Linked DNA regions of Homo sapiens. The protein of the gene in region 1 interacts with the protein of each later gene in a pairwise test. Each region holds a gene or a part of one and is shown on either strand. Other genes may lie near its edges.

Evidence for each region.
Region 2: the proteins of CC2D1B (region 1) and KLHL40 interact in a two-hybrid assay, tested with the Homo sapiens proteins (one large-scale study listed by BioGRID).

What each region holds. Positions count from the first base shown.
Region 1 is NC_000001.11:52,352,914-52,356,283, reverse strand, and holds part of CC2D1B (coiled-coil and C2 domain-containing protein 1B), read left to right. Parts: coding exon 1-98; intron 99-439; coding exon 440-513; intron 514-617; coding exon 618-676; intron 677-834; coding exon 835-886; intron 887-1,344; coding exon 1,345-1,444; intron 1,445-1,585; coding exon 1,586-1,676; intron 1,677-2,636; coding exon 2,637-2,765; 3' UTR 2,766-2,766; exon of another isoform or gene 2,767-3,060; 3' UTR 3,061-3,370. UniProt on the Homo sapiens protein: Transcription factor that binds specifically to the DRE (dual repressor element) and represses HTR1A gene transcription in neuronal cells.
Region 2 is NC_000003.12:42,690,788-42,693,357, forward strand, and holds the end of KLHL40 (kelch-like protein 40), read left to right. Parts: intron 1-71; coding exon 72-218; intron 219-1,094; coding exon 1,095-1,206; 3' UTR 1,207-1,757; downstream 1,758-2,570. Other genes in the region: HHATL (protein-cysteine N-palmitoyltransferase HHAT-like protein), read right to left, coding at 1,964-2,088, 2,290-2,431. UniProt on the Homo sapiens protein: Substrate-specific adapter of a BCR (BTB-CUL3-RBX1) E3 ubiquitin ligase complex that acts as a key regulator of skeletal muscle development.

The DNA.
Region 1 (3,370 bases):
GACCGCAAGAAACAGCTGGAGATCCTGCAGCTGGCCCAGGCTCAGGGCCTCGACCCTCCCACCCACCACTTTGAGTTGAAGACATTCCAGACTGTGAGGTACCAAGGCCTAGGGAAACAGGGGCTCCAGGCAGGGAGGGGCAGGAGGCTGGGAGCCCAGGCCAGAGACTGCTACCCCTTTAGTGAGGCTTCCCAAGCCTGGCCCCGCTGTGGGCACTGGGGCTGCTGAGGACGACAGGGTGCATGCTAGTGGAGAGCGCACAGCTGTCTGGGTGCTGTGGAAAGAGCTCTGGACCAGAAGTCAGAGATCAAGGTCTGCATACCAGCTCTGCCTTCCCTCCCGTCACCACCCAGCTGGGCAGACAGGCCCTGGACGAAGGGACCTTGTTCCACTACTGTCCTTCACTTTTGAGCATTTTCTCCTTCCCGCTTGGCTCTAGGATCTTCTCAGAACTCAACAGCACAGAAATGCATCTGATCATTGTCCGGGGAATGAACCTCCCAGCCCCTCCAGGTAACCCTAGGGCCGCCCCTACTCCAGGAGGCTCTTGCCCGGACACTCCAAGTGCTAGGCTCCTGGCCACTCCCTCTGACTTGACTCCCTTTTCTCCTTCCCAGGGGTGACTCCCGATGACCTGGATGCTTTTGTGCGGTTTGAGTTTCACTACCCTAACTCGGTGAGGTTCAGGTAGAAGTAGGATCCTCTGAAACCCGCCTTGCATTCCAGGACCCTGTGCTCACTTTCTTCCCATCCCTGGGAGGTGTGGCTGCAGTGCCTGCCCTGTGTGCCTCTTTGTTTATACGCTGTCCTGACTTCTCCCTCCTCACTGCTTAGGACCAGGCTCAAAAAAGCAAAACAGCTGTGGTGAAGAACACAAACTCTCCAGGTGAGGGCCACACGTGGGCCTCTTTCTCCTCCCTCAGAGTGTGTGGGCAGCACTGGTGTTTCCAGAGTGGGTTCCCATCTATGCCCTTACTTGATCCACCCCACTTGGGAGATAAAGGTGCTGTTAACATGCTTCTTCTGTAGTTGGAGAAACACGCAGAGAGGTACAGGGACTTGCCTGGGGCCTCATGGCAAGGAAGTGGTAGAAATGGGATATGAACACAGGAATTCTGTATCCCAATTCCAAGTCTTTCCTACTTTGTTACAATCTATGACTAAAAAGAGTACAAAAACTCACTTCCAAGGCCAGGACCGCGATGCTCTACCACCCTTTGGAGGCAGTACCCCAAAATGCAGGTGGAGAGATTGGGGGAAGGCAGCCAGCCCTGGGCCTCCATTTCCACTTCCTCAGGAAATCCCGAGAGCCAAGCCCCTCCTTGCTTTCTCCCCCTTTGCCAGAATTTGATCAACTCTTCAAACTAAACATCAACCGAAACCACCGGGGCTTCAAGAGGGTGATCCAGAGCAAAGGCATCAAGTTTGAGATCTTCCACAAAGGGTGAGGCTCCTATCGGTCATGCTGCCACACGGGCCGGGAGGAGGGAAGAGCGTTTGTCACTGCTGCCCCTGCATGGGCTCAGCCAGCACATTCCTGCCTTCCCTGCCCAGTCCAATCCTCTGCTGCCTCTTGACTCCCCAGGTCCTTCTTCAGAAGCGACAAGCTGGTTGGCACAGCACACCTGAAACTGGAGCGGCTGGAGAATGAGTGTGAGATCAGAGAAATTGTGGAGGTAGGGGCTGGGGTGTGGGCAAGCCAAAGGGGTTGGTACGACAAGAGCCAATACGCACTGAATGCCACACCTTGTTGTAGGTTTTCGTGCTCATTACTTAATTTGAAATTCTCCACAAGTGTGCTTAGAGTAGGTGGAATCCTCATTTCACAGATGGAGAGGTTCAGAAGGTCTGAGAAATCTCACAGAGGGACCCAGGAGAAGGCAGCCTCCTTGTTTCCATGAACTCAATGGATTCCACAGGCAAGGACTATACGACCTTGCCTCTGACAAATGAGGAAACTCAGGTCCGAGAGGAAAGGGGGTTCTGTAAGCTCATATGGTGTGTCCTTGGCAGAGCTACGACCAGCTCCTTACTGATAACCTATGTAGGCTGGGGCTCTTCCCACTGTAGCACACCTGGCCCTACTGCCTGCCTGGGGAAGTTGTTCTTATGCGGGCCCTGGTCTCTATTGGAGCCACTGAGGGTGGTTGGACTTCTTGGGCCTATTGTACTGCTTTGTGCCCTAATTGACTGCCTCATCTTCTGCCCAAAAGAGGGAGTAGCGTGGTGAATGGGAAGGAACCCTGGGTTTGGGGTTCCAGTGCTGACTCTGCCACATAGAGTCATCTGCTTCTCTCTCTTGGCCATCTGTGAAGTGAGGGTTTGGGTCAGTGGAAGGCTGCTTCTTCAAGCCAATGTTTCTTCCAGAAGTTGCCGTGGGGATTGAGGAGAAAATGAACAGAGCTCTAGGATGCTTGTCTGGATTTATTTATTACTTTTTTAATAAGACTCACCTAAAACCACCACCACCTCCTCCTCCAAATACTGGGAGGGTAGGGTTTTCATGAATGGAGATTCCTGTGTTCATGCCACAGGACATCTTAGCTCCTCTCACTTCTTTCCTGGGAATGTAGGGACCTGCCTGCTCCCCATCTCTGTCCCCTTAGTTACCATTTCCCTCTCTGTGGTCCTCACAGGTCCTGGATGGAAGGAAGCCCACCGGGGGGAAGCTGGAGGTGAAGGTGAGGCTGCGGGAGCCTCTGAGTGGCCAGGATGTGCAGATGGTCACTGAGAACTGGCTGGTTCTGGAGCCCAGGGGCTTGTGAGGTGGGCAGCTCTCTGGGCCTTCAGAACCTTTGCCCCCTCCTTTTACTCAACTAACTACTCAACTCATATCTGGAGAGAAAACCTAGGAGTTTCTCATCTATGAGAAAGACCTACCATGCTGGGTAGGGCTTATGGGCTGAGTTTCTGATGTTCCTCAGTAGAACTGGGAAGAGAAGGTAACCTTCCAAGGTTTAACTATCTATCTATCTATCTATCTTCAGGAAACCCTTTCTAAAATCTTTGTGTTTTCACTGCAGTTTAGACTGACTTCTTGTGCTTTGCACCCCTGTGTAGCCGATGGCCAGCACCAGGAGAGGAGTCAGGCCGCGACTGTGCAGGAGATGACTTTCCCAGCTTTGCTGGCTTCAGAAGCCTTTGTACATAAGAGATGCTGCTACCCAAGCACCAAAGACCTGTTAAGCATGTGCACTACTGACCACGACTCTGGTCTTTCCTGTTGTTGGCCCCTCTGGGGCTCTACAGAAACAGGCTGGGTTCCAGGAGCCCATCTCCCCGCTGTCTCCCCCTGCCCCGAGTCTGGAAGAGGGCAAGGACACTTCCATTCCTCTGTACCATGGAGTCCTGCAGCCCCTTAACCCCTGCG
Region 2 (2,570 bases), on another chromosome or scaffold:
TGCTGGGTGGCAGGGACAGTCACTGGGCTTGCCGAGGCATCCCAATGATGCACCTTCTCACACACCCCCAGGTGGGCACCCTTCGAGGCCTTCCCACAGGAGCGTAGCTCACTCAGCCTGGTCAGCCTGGTGGGTACCCTCTATGCCATTGGTGGCTTTGCCACACTGGAGACGGAGTCTGGAGAGCTGGTTCCCACAGAGCTCAATGACATCTGGAGGTGAGTCCCACCCTGGGGAGGCAAGGGGGCATCATGAGCAAGGCTGACACCCCATAGCACCATGGTGGGGTACCAAGGCACTGGGCAAGCTCCTCTGGGGGCAAAGCGGATCCCTCTTCTAGGGAGTCCTGTAGGGAGGAATAGCCAACATACCCTGCTTGGCCGTTTCTCACCAGTTTGTTGGGAAAGTCTGGGCTTGCACAGATGACACCATGCCCCACTGTGGAGCAGCAACAGTGTTGCAGATGGGAGCAGACCCAAGCTTAGGTCATAGACTCACAGAAACAGGGCCCAAATAGCAGCCGGATTTTCTTCTCTCCTGCCTTCCGGGTGCTTGGTCTGGAGGGAGGGCTGCCACTAGGGCTGGGAAACAGTTGGAGCCCTGGCCTTTCAGAACCATTGCTCTCTATGGCTGGTCCTTTGTGGGGGTGGGAGAAGGAAACTTTAGCCTCTGGGGCATCTCCTTCCTGAACCTGCAGCCATCTGCACTGCTGCAGGCAGCCCCTGGGGAGCAGTGCTGCCGGAGGCTGAGACGTGAGACTTAGTAGAAATGGAGCATGGAAATTCTCAAGGAGAGGACATTGATGGGGTGGTGTGGGCAGTGTAGACCTTCCTGGAGGGGAACTTTGAGGAATATGGGAACACCCCTTGAGAGGTGATCTTTCCTGGGGAGAAAGACCCTTCCTGGAGTGTGGGGTGGGTGTTCCTTGGGGTGGGTCTTGTGGGGGGTCTCCTTTCCCAGAGCCTGGGGATTTTCAGGAGCAGATCTCCCTAGAGATGGGCCAAGTGCCCTCAGCCACCCCTCTCTGCTGCGTTCCACTCTGGACTCAGCTGACCAAGCTCTCCATCCTTGTCCCCACTCTCTCTCATCCCCAGGTATAACGAGGAGGAGAAGAAATGGGAGGGTGTCCTGCGGGAGATCGCCTATGCAGCAGGTGCCACCTTCCTACCAGTGCGGCTCAATGTGCTGTGCCTGACTAAGATGTGACCAGCTCAGGCAGACTGAACTAAGCACCCCTCCCATCCTGCGACCCTCACTGGCCTGGCCTTGTGGGGGCTCCAGAAAAGAGGCTAGGAGAGGCCAGAGTCTACCTGGATCCAGTTATGGTGCCTCAGGGGCTGCGTCAGCCAAGGAAAGGGAAGTGCTGCTTAGTCCTGGACTTTTGGGCAAGGGTGAGAAACTAGAGGCTTCTCCAGTGTTGCCATATCCCCCTAGGTTGTCTTGATCCATGAACCAGAACCACAGGGCGGTATCCCAGGCCGTGTGCTGGCCCTGCCCCAGCCTAGCTGAGTGTGCTGGCAAAGTTCCCCACAGGACTCAGCCTTCTCGTCTGTCCGATGGGAGCATCCCCATCAAGTGCAGTGTACAGTGCAGATATGTCTCCTTCTTTAGGAAGAATAAAGTGCCTTCTGAGCAAGCAGCTCAGGGTCTGCATCAGTGCTCCAAGAGTCAGTGAGCAGGTGTGTTGAAGACTTGGGGCTTCAGTGTTCTGCTGTTGGGCTGCCAAGGTCGATGGTCTCTGCTCTCCATCTGGTGTCCCCTCCACCCTATGGGTGGGAACCCTCCCCTGCCTGAGGCCTAGAGCCTCCAGCTCCTCAGCCACTATGGACGTGGAGCCAGGGGACTGTGGGAAGAAGGGTCAGGGAACAGCCAAGCTGTTGTAGAAAAGTCTTTTATTCTATCGGTCAGGCCCCATCTGGCCCAAGAATAGCTGAGCAGAGCCCATCCCTCTACCCGCTCCCTCCTACTCCGGCTTCTCTTTGTCCTGCTTCTGCTCCTCCTCCAGTGCCAAGGTTCGCTCACGCTCCTTTACCAGCTGGACGCCACAGTAGGTGACAAACAGGATGGACAGCGTGGTCTGGGGGAACCCTGTGTGGGGAGGGAGTCATAGATGCTCAGGAGCAGCACTGCATCCTCAGCGACTTTTGTCTTCCCACCCCTCTCCCCGCTTGATGGGCCCTCCCTTCTGAGTCCCAGGGGTGATGAGGGAGATAGGAGGCATTTTGGAAGGTCACGGTCCTTGAGGCTGATGCCTGGCACCTTCTGTATCCCCACACCCCTGTCCCTCACCTGTGAGTAGCAGGCGCCGGGCAACCAGCTCTGTGAATTTGAGGCTGTTCAGGCTCACAAGGTTGTACATGATGATGGCCCAGAAGTTCATGGCTCCAAACAGGGCCCGGACCCTACGGGACATCTGCACTGACAGAGAGGCCTATCCGGTCCAGGAAAGCATGGGCAGCGGGACAAGAGGCCAAAGGAAAGAGGACATGGTGGGTCAGCAGCCTTACCCACCTGGCCAGTCAGGTCTTGGGGCTATGTCTGGGTCTCGGAGAGCCCCAGGTCAGCTCTCC